Regions from separate parts of the Homo sapiens genome. Here region 1 is linked to region 2. A link means that fine-mapping ties the variant in region 2 to the expression of a gene that starts in the linked region. Tissue or cell type: whole blood. Region 2 holds a variant in brackets; the other region holds the start of a gene. All regions are shown on one strand. Distances are from middle to middle.

What was found. PIP is the estimated chance that this variant, and not a neighbour inherited with it, causes the effect.
Region 1: it holds the start of ZSWIM8-AS1, and the variant in region 2 is fine-mapped to the expression of ZSWIM8-AS1 in whole blood (TOPMed, PIP above 0.99).

The regions. Positions count from the first base shown.
Region 1 is chr10:73,798,294-73,806,382 of GRCh38, reverse strand. ZSWIM8-AS1 (ZSWIM8 antisense RNA 1) reads left to right here and starts at 4,984. Exons shown (of 4, transcript NR_038357.1): 1 at 4,984-5,043; 2 at 5,824-5,880. It overlaps ZSWIM8 (zinc finger SWIM-type containing 8), which reads right to left. Exons shown (of 26, transcript NM_001367799.1): 20 at 7,930-8,089; 21 at 6,893-7,381; 22 at 6,213-6,372; 23 at 5,911-6,087; 24 at 5,624-5,743; 25 at 5,188-5,366; 26 at 4,590-5,067. The coding sequence ends at 4,864. It overlaps NDST2 (N-deacetylase and N-sulfotransferase 2), which reads left to right. Exons shown (of 15, transcript NM_003635.4): 6 at 1-94; 7 at 355-483; 8 at 614-796; 9 at 1,514-1,610; 10 at 2,367-2,490; 11 at 2,635-2,809; 12 at 3,024-3,194; 13 at 3,302-3,411; 14 at 3,607-3,709; 15 at 3,807-4,467. The coding sequence ends at 3,932. NDST2-ZSWIM8-AS1 (NDST2-ZSWIM8-AS1 readthrough) reads left to right here. Exons shown (of 18, transcript NR_182658.1): 6 at 1-94; 7 at 355-483; 8 at 614-796; 9 at 1,514-1,610; 10 at 2,367-2,490; 11 at 2,635-2,809; 12 at 3,024-3,194; 13 at 3,302-3,411; 14 at 3,607-3,709; 15 at 3,807-5,043; 16 at 5,824-5,880.
Region 2 is chr10:73,769,697-73,777,793 of GRCh38, reverse strand. SEC24C (SEC24 homolog C, COPII component) reads right to left here. Exons shown (of 23, transcript NM_198597.3): 19 at 8,061-8,097; 20 at 7,779-7,958; 21 at 7,323-7,514; 22 at 6,996-7,085; 23 at 5,633-6,839. The coding sequence ends at 6,699. It overlaps POFUT4 (protein O-fucosyltransferase 4), which reads right to left and starts at 5,518. Exons shown (of 3, transcript NM_173540.3): 1 at 4,753-5,518; 2 at 3,979-4,604; 3 at 1,575-2,253. The coding sequence starts at 5,460. The coding sequence ends at 2,109. RefSeq lists enhancers at 4,207-4,256, 4,101-4,631, 4,917-5,026, 5,617-5,796 and a silencer at 5,237-5,286. The variant T/C (reference allele first, on the strand shown) is at 4,104.

The DNA of each region.
Region 1 (8,089 bases), 29 kb before region 2:
ATCCGTGTGGGGCATCCAGGTGACCAGCACTGAGGAGTATCCCCATCTCCGCCCTGCCCGCTACCGCCGTGGCTTCATTCACAATGGCATTATGGTGAGGGACTCCCAATACAGGCTTGAATCAAACTCTAACATTTAGACAGCTTTCAACATGCATTGACCTATGTTCTCTATCAACTGCCAGTCCAAGTATGGGGGTACATAATTGGGGGTAGAAAGGTGAAAAAATTTTAACACCCTCAGTAAGAGCTTTATTGCTATAACTTCAGACTCAGTCCTCTATAAATCCCAGTGTCCTCCATCTACTTCTCATTCTATCTTTCAAATCTCATCTGTTTTTTCTTTTCCCTCCAGGTGCTGCCCCGGCAGACATGTGGCCTCTTCACTCACACAATCTTCTATAATGAGTATCCTGGAGGCTCTCGTGAACTAGACCGGAGCATCCGAGGTGGAGAGCTCTTTCTGACAGTGCTGCTTAATCCGGTAAGGTGCTGAGAGGAACGGCTAGAAGATTGGAGAGCCAAGGTGTTTGCAGGCTGGGACCTTTATTCACCAAGGCTAATTCAGAGGTGGGGTAGGCTCTCCAAATCTGACATGCAGGTACCCCTTACAGATCAGCATCTTTATGACCCATCTGTCCAATTATGGAAATGACCGGCTGGGCCTATACACCTTTGAGAGCTTGGTGCGCTTCCTCCAGTGTTGGACACGGCTGCGCCTACAGACCCTTCCTCCTGTCCCACTTGCACAGAAGTACTTTGAACTTTTCCCTCAGGAGCGAAGCCCCCTTTGGCAGGTAAAGGTGGAGCTCAGTCTGATGAGAGACATGATAGGGGTGGGGTGTTTTTTGTTGTTGTTGTTGTTGTTTTGAGACAGAATCTCGCTCTGTCACCCAGGCTAGAGTACAATGGCACAATCTCTGCTCATTGCAACCTCCACCTCCCAGGTTCAAGCGATTCTCCTGCCTCAGCCTCCCTAGTAGCTGGGATTACACGCACCCGCCACCACGCCCGGCTAATTTTTTGTATTTTTAGTAGAGACGGGGTTTCACCATGTTGGTCAGGCTGGTCTCGAACTCCTGACTGCAGGTGATCCGCCCGCCTCAGCCTCCCAAAGTGCTGGGATTACATATGTAAGCCACTGCGCCCAGCCGGGGTGGGGGTTTAAGAGAAGACTAGGCCAGGCCGGGCACGGTGGCTCATGCCTGTAATCCCAGCACTTTGGGAGGCCGAGGCAGGCAGATCACCTGAGGTCAGGAGTCTGAGACTAACCTGACCAACTTGGAGAAACCCTGTCTCTACTAAAAACACAAAATTAGCCGGACATGGTGGCACATTGCCTATAATCCCAGCTACTCAGAAGGCTGAGGCAAGAGAATTGCTTGAACCCAGGAGGCGGAGGTTGCAGTGAGCCGAGATCATGCATTGCACTCCAGCCTGGGCAACAAGAACGAAACTCCGTCTCAAAAAAAAAAAAAAAATAGGCCTTATCTGATTATTGGCCCTGGCTTCAGAATCCCTGTGATGACAAGAGGCACAAAGATATCTGGTCCAAGGAGAAAACCTGTGATCGTCTCCCGAAGTTCCTCATTGTGGGACCCCAGAAAACAGGTGAAGTATCCTTAGCTAACTTCTCTTGCCCTGCCTTAAACCCAAAGGATCCTTTTGTCAAGGAACTCTCTTCTCTCTCCAGGTAATCACAGGAGTGAAAAAAGTATTTTTAATTTTAATAATTTTTTTTTTTTTGAGATAAGAGTCTCACTTCTTTGCCCAGGCTGGAGCGCAGTGGCACGATCTCAGCTCACTACAACCTCCACCTCCCAGGTTCAGGCAATTCTGCTCAGCTTCCCTAGTAGCTGGGATTACAGGCAGGTGCCACCACACCTGGCTAATTTTTGTATTTTTAGTAGAGACGGGGTTTCACCATGTTGGCCAGGCTGGTCTCGAACTCTTGACCTCAAGTGATCCGCCTGCCTTGGCCTCCCAAAGTGCTGGGATTACAGGCATGAGCCACCGCACCCGGCCTTAATTTGAATTTTTAAGAGAGAAAAAAAGGAACTCCTTTTATACCCACCCCTCATTGATCCAGTCTCTTGAGGCAGTGATTCCTAACCCTGGTTGTATATCAGAATCATCTGTGGTGTTTTTACAAGATCACAAGTCATTCTGGTGCACAGTTAAAGCAGAGAACCACTGTTTTAGCCCTTCCCTGGGCCTCTCTCAGACTTGCCTCCTATCATTGTAGTTTGGCCATAGGGGATTTTCCTACCCAGAGTGGTTATTTTTTCACTTCCTTCAAGCTTATGCTGTTGAGCTGGCTTCCCTCCCACAATGGCTGCCTGAAGCTGGTCTTTCTCTCCCATTTAGGGACTACAGCTATTCACTTCTTCCTGAGCCTGCACCCAGCTGTAACTAGCAGCTTCCCTAGCCCCAGCACATTTGAGGAGATTCAGTTCTTCAACAGCCCTAATTACCACAAGGGTATTGACTGGTGAGACTGGGCCCCATTTGAATGTTTCTCAGAGGAACACTCCCTTCCCCCAAAATACCCCATTCCAGCTTCCCTCAGCACAGACTTCTGGCCACTTCACTCTGCATATTTTTCTGCTTCTCTCTCTTCTGTGCTACTTCCTAGGTACATGGATTTCTTCCCTGTTCCTTCCAATGCCAGCACTGATTTCCTATTTGAAAAAAGTGCCACCTACTTTGACTCTGAAGTTGTACCACGGCGGGGGGCTGCCCTCCTGCCACGAGCCAAGATCATCACAGTGCTCACCAACCCTGCTGACAGGGCCTACTCCTGGTACCAGGTCTGCCTGAAGCTAGGGACACACAGGCTAAAGGTTGGGGGGAGGGGGGAGGGGACAGTGACTGCTAGAGAGGGAGAAAGGAGTGAGGTTTGAGAAACTTAACTAGTGCCTTGGGGACGGGTACCCGTGCTGTGCTGTCTGTCTCCAGACCAAGCGTAAGGGCAGAATACTGTCAAATCACCAGTCCTTCACCTTCCTTCTCTTTGTCCTTCAGCATCAGCGAGCCCATGGAGACCCAGTTGCTCTGAACTATACCTTCTATCAGGTGATTTCAGCCTCCTCCCAGACCCCTCTGGCACTACGCTCCCTGCAGAACCGCTGTCTTGTCCCTGGCTACTATTCTACCCATCTACAACGCTGGCTGACTTACTACCCCTCTGGACAGGTATAATCCCCACAAGAGCCCTCAGTGGGGTTCCCCTTCCCCTCTTCTTCCCTTCAGCCCAGAGGCTTCTTAGGAATATAGAGGGAACCACATCCCTGTCCTTTTAGTTGCTGATTGTGGATGGGCAAGAGCTGCGTACCAACCCAGCAGCCTCAATGGAGAGCATCCAGAAGTTCCTGGGTATCACACCCTTTCTGAACTACACACGGACCCTCAGGTGGGAGAGCATGACCCAGGGGAGGAGTACTGTATGGGAAATGGGGAAGCAGGTTGACCATGTCTGTTAGAGACATAGATTTACTCTGTCTCACAAGGAGAGACATGTCCCTGTGGGCAGGGAAGGGCATTGTGCATTTATGGAACTTGAGTTTCTCTTTTCCCTGCCACCTCATGGCCTCTTCCTGTTGAGCAGGTTTGATGATGATAAGGGATTTTGGTGCCAGGGACTTGAAGGTGGTAAGACTCGCTGTCTAGGCCGGAGCAAAGGCCGGAGGTATCCAGATATGGACACTGAGGTAAGTAAAGCCAGGGGCAGGGGAATCCCTCTCCACTTCCAGGATCTGATTCTGTGTCCCACTTCTTACCATTTCTGCCTTCATTTTCTCCTGTCAGTCCCGTCTTTTCCTTACGGATTTTTTCCGGAACCATAATTTGGAGTTGTCGAAGCTGCTGAGCCGGCTTGGACAGCCAGTGCCCTCGTGGCTTCGGGAAGAACTGCAGCATTCCAGTCTGGGCTGATGTCCCAGCCTCCCATACCAGCAAAATGCCCCCTGCTTCCCTAAGGGGCAGGTCCAGAGCAGGGCCCACAAGGGGGATTAGAGTGGCCTGGCCCCTCCCCCTCTACCTCAGTAGCCCCCAGGCCTGAGATGGCTGAGAAGGGAAGGGTATCCTTTTCCCACAGTTCTGGGACAAATAAAGGGGCTTCCTTTGGTACCCCACATAATAGTGCTAGGTACCTTTGACCCATCATCTTGGGAGGTGGGGAGGAATGAGAGGGTCCAGGCAGGGTGTAGGGGAATGTATTAGTCCAATGAGATTTCCCTCTTCATCCGCAGCAGTGTATCTATTCTATACCTGGCTATGGGAGAGACCCCTTGCATGGGAGGGACCCCTTGCTATGGCCCCTTTAGCCAGGCAGTGGGATCTACCTGTGGCCCGGCCTCCCTAATGTCATTCACATTGAATGGGGATGAGGTCGGACAGTGGCTCATAGAGCCGAGTATGAGCCCTAGCTGTGGGCTAGAAATGTCCTTAATAAACATCCTTATTTTTCTGTTTTGTCTGCCTCCCTGGAGTGGGAAAAACCTAGACTAAAGCAAGTGTCAGAAGTTTCCTCCCCAGTTGAAGGTTCATCTGCACATGGAATTTGGAAAGAAGGGAAAGGCCCAGGTCGACTAGAGTAAAAAAGGAGTTTATATATTTATAAATGCCAAATAAATACCAGAGGCCACCCAACGCCCCCTCCCAGACAGGGCTGTCTCCCCCAGCCCTAGGCTTCTAGGGTGTGAGACATCTTGGCCCCAAGCTATAGCCCAAGAGCAGCTGTCAGTCTGTGCTACCAGGGAACTGAGTGAGGATGATCTGTCCAGCCAAGTTTCACTCCCCCTGTGTGAGGGGCCCCCATAGCCACAGGCCTGGGTCCCTGTATAGGACCCTAAGGGTGAAAGACTCAGGGGGAGAAGGTGGCCATCTCGAGTGAGACCCGCTGCCACAGCTCCTTGGTCTGTTTGCTGCGCTTGAGGTTCTGTAGGATGTCGTTGAACTGCATCATGCCCATGGGCGTCAGGCAGAAGGCGCTGCGGGCACTCCGGATCGCATTCACAAAGTCGTCGTAGTCCGCAGGAGTCAGGTGAATCAAGCGGTGGTGGATGTACTGGAGGAGGATGTGTGCAGGATGAGCCTTAGTACAAAGCACAGAAACAGGCCCTGCCTCCCTCTGGTCCAAGACCACCCAGGAAGTGCTCCACCCTGCTCCATAATTCTAGGTTGTCACCTGCATGTATGCCTGCTGGCAGCGCTGCACCAGTTGGTGGAAGGCCGGGGCACGCAGGTGGTTGTGGGCATGAGCGGGACTCAGCCGCTGCAGCGTCTCCATGACGATCTCCTGCAGCACAAACGGGCTCAGCACCCCCTTGGCTGCCCCCACACAGAACTGGTGCACGTAGTTCACTCCTGGGGGGCAGGGGGAGGGGCATGAGACGGGGGTGGCCACCTCTGCCCTAGGGACCCAACTTACAGATCTCAGCTCTGGCCTGGCAGAGAGCCTCCCTCCACCCCAGGAGCTGAGGTAACCCTCCGCCCCCCGCGCACGCACACATACCCGACCAAGGCCTCAACTCTGAGCAAGAGCTAGGAAGGAGGTCTGGGATAAGGAAGGTGGGGAGAGCAGGTGGGGGGGGGGCAATGGTCCTAGGGAGGGGAGGTGTTACCCAGCTTTGCTGCCAGCCCCAGCAACCATTTGACATCATCAGTGTAGGGGGGGGAGCGGGAGAAGTTGTTGGGGTGATCGTTGTGTGCCCGGCGACCCAGCATCTCCAGTGCCAGCATTCCTGGGAGATAGATAAGGGTGGGCACATGGTACGGTGTATCCTCTTCACCCTTTACCCCAACCTGTCACCTGACCCCACAGTAAACAAATGAAGAGCTAGAGGAAGGGTCCTCTGAAGAGCCACTGGCACAACTGCAGGTAGGAGCACAGAAAGGGATGTCCTCTCACCGACACGGTAGGCAGCATGCAGGTGGTGCAGGCTGTGGGGATTGACTGGCTGACTGTGTGTCTCCTCCTCGGGCGGTGGAAAACCTCCGCTCACCAGAGGGCTGGGCTGTGTGGTCAGGGCAGGCAGTGAGGCACCTTGGATGGCTGGAAACGTGGATGCTGGATGGACACTGCTCACTAAGTGGGGTGAGAGCCATGTGAGGAACTCAGAGCCCAAAGAGAGACAAAGAACATTCCCTCCCCACCTCCCCTGCCCAGTGTGCCTCCCCTCCATTCACCTGTTCCCTGGCCCCACAACTCACAGGCCACACTGGTGGGCAGTGGAAGCCCTGGCTCTGTGTGGTAGGGATGTACTGTGATGGGTGCCATGGAAGGAACGGGGAAAGACACAGCAGTGGCAGCAAGTGAGGGAGGAGTCACTGAATAAGGGTACTGAGCCCCTAGGAATGCAGGATGCACACCCTAGGGGCAGGGAGAAGAAAGGGGAAGATGCCAAACTTGATTAGGATGTTGCTGTCGTGCTTCACCCCCACAAGCTGCTATCCTGACATGTTTTTTTTGAGATAGAGTCTCGCTCTGTCCTCCAGGCTGGAGTGCAGTGGCACGATATCGGCTCACTGCAACCTCTGCCTCCCAGGTTCAAGTGATTCCCATCTCAGCCTCCCAAGAAGCTGGGATTACAGGCGTGCACTCAGCTAATTTTTAGTAGAGACGGGGTTTCCCCATGTTGGCCAGGCTGGTCTCGAACTCCTGACCTCAAGTGATCCACCCACATCGGCCTCTCAAAGTGCTGGGATTACAGGCATGAGCCACCATGCCCGGCCGTCATTTCTTATTTTAGTTGGGCTGGGTCCCCCAGACTCCCACCACCTCACCAGGACTCTCCGACTGACCAATTATACTCCCAGAGTACCCACTCCAACCCCCTATGAATTCCCAGTATTTTCCCATGCCTTACCCCCCAGCAGAACACTGGTCTCACCTGTGGGTATGCAGAGCTGGGCACAGGGAAGACGGCAGGCCGGGGCATGTGAGGCATGGGGTGGGCAGGGTGAGCTGGGTGAGTGAGATACTGAGGGCTACAGGGCAGGTGGGGCTGTAGAGCAGTGTAGGGGTGCAGGCCAGGGGAGTGGCCATGCCCCAGTCCTGGACCCGGGTATAAACTAGACCCCACCGATATGACGGGCACCACTGTGGCTGCTGCTGTCACTGCTGCCGCTGCCACTGTAACCGGCTCAGTCCCTGGGCCCCCTCTACCCTCAGGCATACCCCGCCCAGCTTCCCCACCTGCCCTGATCCCACTGGCACTACAGCTTGTAGCCCCTTCACGGGCTGTGGATGAGCCACCTGCAGTTTGCTCATACAGCCAGAACCACTGGTGAGCAACCTCAAACAACACTTCAGGGTACACGCCCCCACCCTTAGCTGCCTCTTCCACTGCCATGCAGGCCTTCTCCAACATCAGGTTGTCCTGGAAGAGAGGGGCACAGAGTGTTAAGGGGGAAAGGCCTTTACCACATGGAAGGTGTTAGATGAGATTCCAATGTCTCCCTCAGAGCTGTCTCATTCCCAGGGAATCATCAGAGGTCAGTGTCAATGCTTAGAGTCCATTATCAGAGCAGTGAGTGCTTCACACACTGAGTAAATACTGACCAAAATGAGTCAAGACCCAGGTTATAGTCCCAGTTCCAAACTAATTTAACAGCCCCCTCCCATTCAAGTCTTAGATGTATGAGGCCTTCCCTAAGTTTTCTATCCTGAGTGATCATCTTGGTCCCTAAACCGTAGGCCTCCATTTCCTTATCTGTAAAATAGAAATAAACCTAACCTTTGAGTTGTAAGGTAAAGGAAAGATGGGTGTGAAAGCACATTAATGGGTAAAATGTTGCCATGAGAGGACCAACAATCATCTGTAAACTCCAGGATACGGGAATCAAGAGCTGGGCCCTTAGCTTTCCCATGCCCAACCTCCCTGCCCAGATGCCCCAGAAGAGGTTCCCAGATTGCCCGTAGAAATACCTGTTCCTTGCACTGCACCAGGGCCCGCTGGATCTCATTAGGGTTCAATGCATGGGCGTGAGGCAGGCAGCTCAGGGCCAGCTCTGCTGCCGCCCTCACCATATTGGAGTCTCTTGCCCGTGATGCCCTGTCAGCCAGGGATGCAACCTCAGGGGGTGTC
Region 2 (8,097 bases):
CACCTGAGCTCAGGAGTTCGACACCAGACTGGCCAACATGGTGAAACCCCATCTCTACTAAAAATACAAAAATTAGCTAGATGTGGTGACGGGCGCCTGTAATCCCCACTACTAGGGAGGCTGAGGCAGGAGAATCACTTGAACTGGGAATGCAGAGATTCTAGTAAGCTGAGATCGCGCCACTGCACTCCAGCCTGGGCAACAAGAGCGAAACTCCATCTCAAAAAAAAAAAAAAAGTCATAGGGAAGCGTATTAGTAATACAGTGAATGAAGCTGGACTATTCATTGCACTTAAAGTGAAAAGTGCTACAGATTATGAAATAATTACTAAAACATACAGCCACACTGTTTCCATAACTGCAGAAGATGGGACTTTGTAGCATATAAAAACAATAAAATAGAGGGAACACTTCATTAGGCAAACAAAAGAATTAGGACCTATAAAAATTTGCACTTTTTTTCCTGGATTTTTTTTTTTTTTTGTCAACCTACTCACCAAAAAATTTGCACTTTGACTCATATTGGCCTATTTTAACATTTCAAAATCATTTAAAGAAAAATATGACTTTTTCTGTCATAATTCCCAGTCTTAGTCTCTATCTTTGATCAAAAAGAGGATAGGGCAATACATTAAATTGACAAGGCATATAACAGCCACTGAATCTTTCTGTTCATGAGAAGAAATCCCAGATACACCATAAATGAGATGCAAACCAGCAGTAAGAATGATGGCAAGGTTTCTGTATTTCCATCAGAAATTGTGGAAAAGGGCCTAAAACCAGGAAAGACAAGGCCATTAAAAAAATGTATTTGAGGCCGGGTGCGGTGGCTGACACCTGTAATCCCAGCACTTTGGGAGGCCAAGGCGGGCGGATCACGAAGTCAAGAAATCGAGACTATCCTTGCCAACATGGCGAAACCCTGTCTCTACTAGAAATACAAAAAATTAGCTGGGCGTGGTGGTGCATGCCTGTAGTCCCAGCTACTCAGGAGGCTGAGGCAGGAGAATCGCTTGAACCAGGGAGGTGGAGGTTGCAGTGACCCGAGATCATGCCACTGCACTCCAGCTGGTGACAAAGCAAGACTCCATCTTAATATATATATATAATTTGAGACGGTGTCTCGCTCTGTCACCCAGGCTGGAGTGCAGTGATCATGATCATAGCTCATTGCAGCCTTAAATTCCTGGACTCAAGTGATCCTCCTGCCTCAACCTCCCAAGTATCTAGGGCTACAGGTGTGCACCACCATGCCCTGCTAATTCTTTTATTTTTTAGAGACAAGGTCTTGCTAGGATGGTCTCAAACTCCTGGCTTCAAGCAGTCGCCTCTCCTCGGCCTCCCAAAGTGTTGGGATTACAGGCATAAGCCACTACGCCTGGCCAGAAAAAGCCAAAAAAAAAAAAAAAATTAGGGCTGGGTGAGGTGGCTGATGCCTGTAAACCCAGCACTCTGGGAGGTCAAGGCGGATGGATTGCTTGATCCAGGAGTTGGAGACCAACCTGGGCAATGTGGCAAAACCTCATCTCTACAAAAAATATTTTAAAAAAATAAATAAATAAGTAAAATAGAAGTTTGACATGAAAGTATATAATATAAAAAAATCCAACTCCGGAAAACCAGAATACAACTCACCAAATGTTTTGCTTCTCCACCAACGTAACAATTTATAAAGCAAGAGATGAGAAAAAGAGATTATTGGGAAATGTACTGAATAATGAGGAGTCTGGGGAATAGAACAAAAGTTGTAAGTCGTAACCTGACCCATCTTACTTCACTGGTAATCAAGTACAGTCGAAAGGATGAAATAAAGAAGTGAGTAGTTTAAAAACTCTGTTGGACCAGCACCTTGAATCAAATGGATGTTTTAGGGTTCTGTTTCCCACTGAACCAAGAATTGTATCCCTCCATCTCTCCTTGAGGAGAGGCCCTATGTTAGACCTTGGCTACTCATCATTAAGATAAAATCTTAATAGATAAAACTGGAATTCCTTGAATCCATGAAAAGACAGTGTTCATTAAGGGTTTGTGCAGTGGATGCTCCTTATGTCCCATGGTAGAATAAGATCTCCTTAGCTCCGCCAAGTTAAAGGCTCTTGCAAGGGCACTTAGAGATGTTGCCTCTTCATGAAGATTTCATGTAGGTAATCCCAAAATTTCGTCTGCTCTGTTTCATTGTTGTGGATCATGGCAGTGAGAGCTTCCCCCTGGTCCAGACCTTGCCAATAATCTTGCAGCCACATCTCTTTCCAACTGAAATATCAAAATGGGGGTTGGATTATGGAACTGCAGCATAGTTATGAGTCCTGCCTTTTTCCGAGTGGGGCCAAAGAAATCTTAAGCAGATACAGTGGTCTCTAACTTGGACAAGACTGCTGTGAAAGGAAGACAAAGTGAAGTAAATCCAATATAAGCCCAAGCGACAGGCAGTAAGTCACAAACACAAAGACATCACACAGACTACCCAATCAATTACGATTCCTGACTTGCCTGCTTCTGGCTCCCAAATGTGGAGGGGGTTCAGAGGCAGGCAAAGCAGAGGCCAGACTGGAAGTGGCAGTCTCCATAAGGAAAGCAAGGGGGCAGGGGTCTTTAGATGATTATCTTTTAAGTTTCACCTTTATGCCAATAATCAAAATGAAGGTGCATCAAAATGAAGTAGCATCCAGTATCTAGAAAAGACATAACCTGAATATTTATTTTCTTAATGTTTCATATTTTTTCATACTTTTCCTCTAGTAAATCATATTATGTTCAGATACAAACAATTTGTAATTAGATACAAATTACTTGGTGAAGGATTCCAACCATCAGGACAAAACTGCCAGCAGCATCTGTTAATAAATGGCCTTCTGCTGCCATCCACTGTCCAAGTCGGTTTCTATAGGCCATTCTAGCAGCCTTACTTCAGCTTAATAATCTTATCACCTCTCCCCCAATAGGTGTGGCTTGCTACAAGTGGTTTCAACATTTTCCCACCCCACACCACACGCTGGCCTTGTTTCCCAGTACCACCACCTTTTGCCACCTACTACAGTAGCCTATTCGCTTCCCTTCTGATGCGCATTGTGCATTGTTTTGTGTGTGTGTGTGTGTGTGACAGGGTCTTACTCCAACCCAGGCTGGAATGCAGTGGCACGATCCTAGCTCACTACAGCATTGAACTCCTAGGTTCAAGCAATCCACCTGCCACAGCCTCCCAAGTAGCCAGGACTACAGGTATGTGCCACCACCCCAGGCTTTTAGTTTTTAAATTGTACAGAGAGGCTCTTATTATATTGTCCAGGCTGGTCAATATATTATATTATATATTATATTGTCTCTGGCCTCAAGTGTTCCTCCCCCCTTGACCTCCCAAAGTGCTGGGATTACAGGTGTGAGCCACCGTGCCCGGCCATGCCTAGTTTTTCTAGTTACACAGGCAGTGTGTCCCCACCTGCACCAACTACATGGGGCTCATCCTCAGCACAGCCGCTTAAAAAAAAAAATTATGGCTGGTTAACAGGTGTAACCCCTGACTACTGCAGAAAAGCCTCTCTAAAAGTGCTCTTCTCTACTGCCCAACCCCATTTCCACTCTATAAAAGGTGCTCAAATAGCTGAGTTGATTTTTAGTGCAGTGCAAACTCCTGAACCTGGTATTAATGATATTTATAGCCTTGTCCCTATTTATTTGCCCCATTTTCTCTCTCCCCTGTCTGCACAGGCCCTGTACTCTGGTTCAATCTTTTTGAACCACTACTGGAAACATTGTTCACATAAGCTGATTTTCATACGTTGCCTTGAATTATATTTTACATCTATTCAGCTTTTTCAGCTTGTCTTATCCCCCCAACTAGACTGTTGACACCTTAAATACAGAATGAGCCCATGTGATAATTTCCTCCTGCACCTGCTCAGCACCTAGTGCTACTTAATTGCCCACAGTAAGCAAGTAAGTAAATGATTTGATAGCTGCAGGGGACCCCAGCACTCTTACCTGTCATTCTCAGGAATCTCTTCCACATTGCCAAAGCCAGGTGTGGGCACTGGGCAGTCCATGTGTGAGGGCTGGGCAATGTGGGGCTCAAAGACGGGGCTGTCCCCGGGAGAGGCCGCGTGGGC[T/C]TTCTCGGCATCCAGCCGAGCCAGTTCGTAGTCACAGACGAAACACTCGAAGCCGTTGAGGTAGTTAGGCAGCAAAGGATCATTCACTCCCCACTCCCGATGCTTCAGACTATCCAGAAGAAATTGGTTGGTGATGCCCCCAGGTTGCTTGTATGCCAGGTATTTCATATACTCCTCATCATTCTTGTCCAGAAAGTCAATAAACTCTGCCAGCTTCTGAGGAGACTCAAAATCATCAATCAGGATGACGGAGTGATTGTTCGGCATCCAGTCCCTCACAGAGGGAGAACCGCGGTACACGGGCACAGCGCCCAGGTGCATGGGACGCCACAGTTTTTCTGTCATGTAGTCGTTACAGATGGCATTTTCCAGGGCCAAGTGGAACTTATAGCGGGACAAGAAAGCCAAGAGCTCTGGATCCTCGGTGGTGGCCGTGGCTGTGTCCTGTAGCCGCGCGGTAGGCAGCTCCCGATTCTGCAGGCATTTCCCGTAGGAGTCTACCTAGACCGGGTACAGTAAGGCTGTCATGAGGGTGCGGCCCTGGAGGCCTGGACACCTGGAGTCCTGGACACCTGGAGTCCTGGACACCTGGAGTCCTGGCCTCAACCCGCCCTCTCCTTTTCCTTCCCTCCGGCCCGCCCTCACTCACCGGGATGTGGCGCATGAGCTCGCGCACGTAGCGGTCCCGGTCCGCTGGCACGTCGCAGTGTGACTGCAGATAGAGCAGCGGCGCGTAGCCGCGGCGGCGCCACTCCGCGCGTTCCATGGGCGGAGGCACCGGGCGGCGCAGATAGGCGGTCCCGGGCAGCCACTGCAGCGACAGCGGGTAATCCGAGTGGCGACTGAAGGTGGAGGTAAGATTGAAGAGGCGGATGCCCGGGCCGTGGCTCAGCAAGAAGTTGTTGAGGGGCGACTCCTCGTGGAGGAGCGCCCAGCTCTGGTGCGCCAGGCGCGGCAGCGGGGCGGCCGACGCGCGGAAGTCTGTGCCGTAGAAGAGCAGCGCGCGCGTCCGCGAGTCCCTCAGCGCTCGGCGGTTCCGGGACGCCACGCACGCGCCGCGCGCACACTCGATGCGCTCCGAGTCTCCCGGGAAGTGGGGGAATAGCCCTGGGCTCCACCACAGCAGTACCGGCAAGTCCCCCGCCTCCTCCCTCCCTGGCCGCGGCGTCCCAGAGCTGCGCGTCACCCCCACTGCGCCCAGCGCCGAGGGCGGCCGGAAAACCGCGCCATCCCACGGTTCCGCCCACTCCGCCTCCCCGCCGGCCTCCCTCTCCGCTACGGACCCATGGCCGCTGGCTGCACAGACACTGAGCACCCCTAGAAGGACCAACACCACCCTAATGGGGCCGGCCGCCATGTCCACTCCGGCAGCCGGCGCCCCCTCGGCCAGCACCGACCCCGCCCAGCGGATAGTCGTGACCGGACGAGGCCCTACGCCACGGGGGCACGTGGCGCATGCGCAGCTCGCTCAGCCGACGGCCAGGACTAAAAGCAAAGTGAGCTTTCGGGAGTAAAGATGAGGCTAATGGTTACATCTTAATTTATTTTATTTCTTTACAAATTAAAGATGCATTGAAAAATAAACCAATGAAGAGAAATGAGAGGTCCAGAGCAGGGGCATCCCAGGTGGGGAGCAGGCAAGCCTGGCCACCATCAAGCCTAGCCCTTGTCCTGCCCCCAAGCCAGTTGGGGTTGGAAGATAACTGTCAGCCACTCAGTCAATACCAAAGCCCAAGCGGTGTCCCAGCAGGAGAGAACGGCGCTCCAGCTGCCTCTGCCTCTCTCCCCAACAACCCCGGGCCTGGAGAAGCAGTGTTTCTCGTGGGAGCTCAGAGTGGGATGTGAACTGGCTCTGTGAGGTATTGCAAGTTGATGACCAGGCTCCCTAGGCTCCCTACAGAACCATCCAGTGTTGGGGCCTCTCCAGCTGGAAAGGAAGCTGGTACCTCTACCAGATCTTAATATATTTTGCAACTCAGTTCTCCGGTCACCTCTGACAGTGTGCCTCTCTATCCACGGAGTGATCATCAATCATTGCAGGAGAGAGCGAGCGAGCAGTGAAAGCAGAGAAACTTGACTGCTAACCTCCAGGCCCAAGAAGGACTGACCACTTTTCTCTCCACCACCTATGGGCTATACCCCAGCTCTTGTGCACCTATATGTTTTATCCCTAATATAGGAAGTTGTGGATGACACTGAGCCCCCTGTAGTAACCTTAGGATCCCCACTCTTTCCTGCCTGCCCCTCTCCTCTTGGGAGACTGGTCCAAAGGGACACATAATATTGCCAGGGTCTGGGTGCCTCCAAACCCCCAATACCGAATCATATACAGTGAACTGAGAAGCTACATTCATTATGACAGGATTAGCAGGAAAAAGAGGGTAGAATGAGGGAACAGGGGCACCTTCCATCAGCAGGACATGACAGAGTGGCAGGATACTTGAGCCCAGAAAGAAGGTGTCTCCTTATATCTCCCCCTCCCCCCAGAGAGACTGAGGTCAGCTTACATAAGATATGTTACTGTCCCAATTTCTCTGACATCCTGGGGTGCTTTCTGGAAGCTAGCCTGGGCCCTATGCCATTTACCCACTTGCTTTAGCTCAGTAGCTGCCGAATCTCCTTGTGCATATGACAGAGAAAGTCCACATAAGATGCTCCCCCACTCAGACTCTTGTCTTCCACCAGGAAGTGCTTGAACAGCATCTCCATCTTGTCTTCCTGTTTCACCACGGTAAGCTACGGCCAGAATTCAGGGTTCATAAGGCAAGGCCAAAGGAAATTAAACATGCCCAGAAATCTCATTAGGCAGTCACTTACTCATTCCCCACCCAACCCCCACTTCTAGGTGAGGACTTGACAAGGTAAGAAATCCAGGGTTCAGATCAGTGTTACCTTCATGTACCGGGATCTCTGTGCCCGTAAGCTATCAATGAGGCCTCGAACCTTCTTGGACAGTGGATTATCCAGAACTGGCAGAACACTCTAGAACACAAAATTCATTTATCCTTATGGTAAGGCACTCTGAGTTCAGTCAAGGTGGGGCAGCATACATGTATGCATCATCTGAAACAGGCAAACCTGGGAAGAATGACAGCAACTGCCCTTGTCCCCAAGTGTTCCCTGATATTTGAGGGTACTAGCACACTAACTATATTGGCTCCCAATTGTTTCACAAAGTATACTTCCACACCCATATTCTCCTTGACTCCCTGCCCTCACCAAACCACTGGTGATCTGACTGAAGGAGGAGACGCTGAAAAGGCTCTGGACAACACCCTGTTGGACGCTTGCTCCCACCCAGAGGAAGAGGTTGAGCCCATTCTCCAGTAAATATATATCCCCATTGCTTAGACGCTCTTCAGAGGCTCGAACTGCTGGTGGTTCGGTAGTACTCTCAACGGGAGACTTTGTCTAGACAAAAGGAAGGGAGCAAAAGGTTACCAAGGACCATAAGACAAGTCTGCCCCCCCGCACCACACACAAAATTTTGAAAGCTAAGTCCTCAGACACCACCCCTTCTGGGGTCTCAGTAACTCTCTCAGTGTGAAAATTACATCAGCTAAAATACATAAAAACAAATTCCACTAGTGTCTGACTGATACTAGCCTATCCTTTCCTCCTCCTAAGAGGCCCTTTGCTCCGTGCAAGATCTCATACTCCAACCCTCAATCGCACCAAAGGTAAGAGCCGAGGGTAGAAGAAGACATTGGTCTCAGTCACATCCATGGAGGTAACTAGCTGTCGGACATAGGCACGGTCATCAGTAGTGACTTCAGCTCCAGGCTGCAGGACATCACTCTTCAACACACAGTTCAGGTAAACTGGGAGTAGCTTCATGCACTCAGGAAGGATCAACTGAGGGGATTATCAAAATAAAGTCAATGATCATGAGAAATCCCTCCCAAATGCAAACATTTGTCCCAACAACCCCACCTCCCACTAATATACTTGCCCCACCTGTCCTGCAGAGGAGGGGCTAGCACAGTTCTTTCTG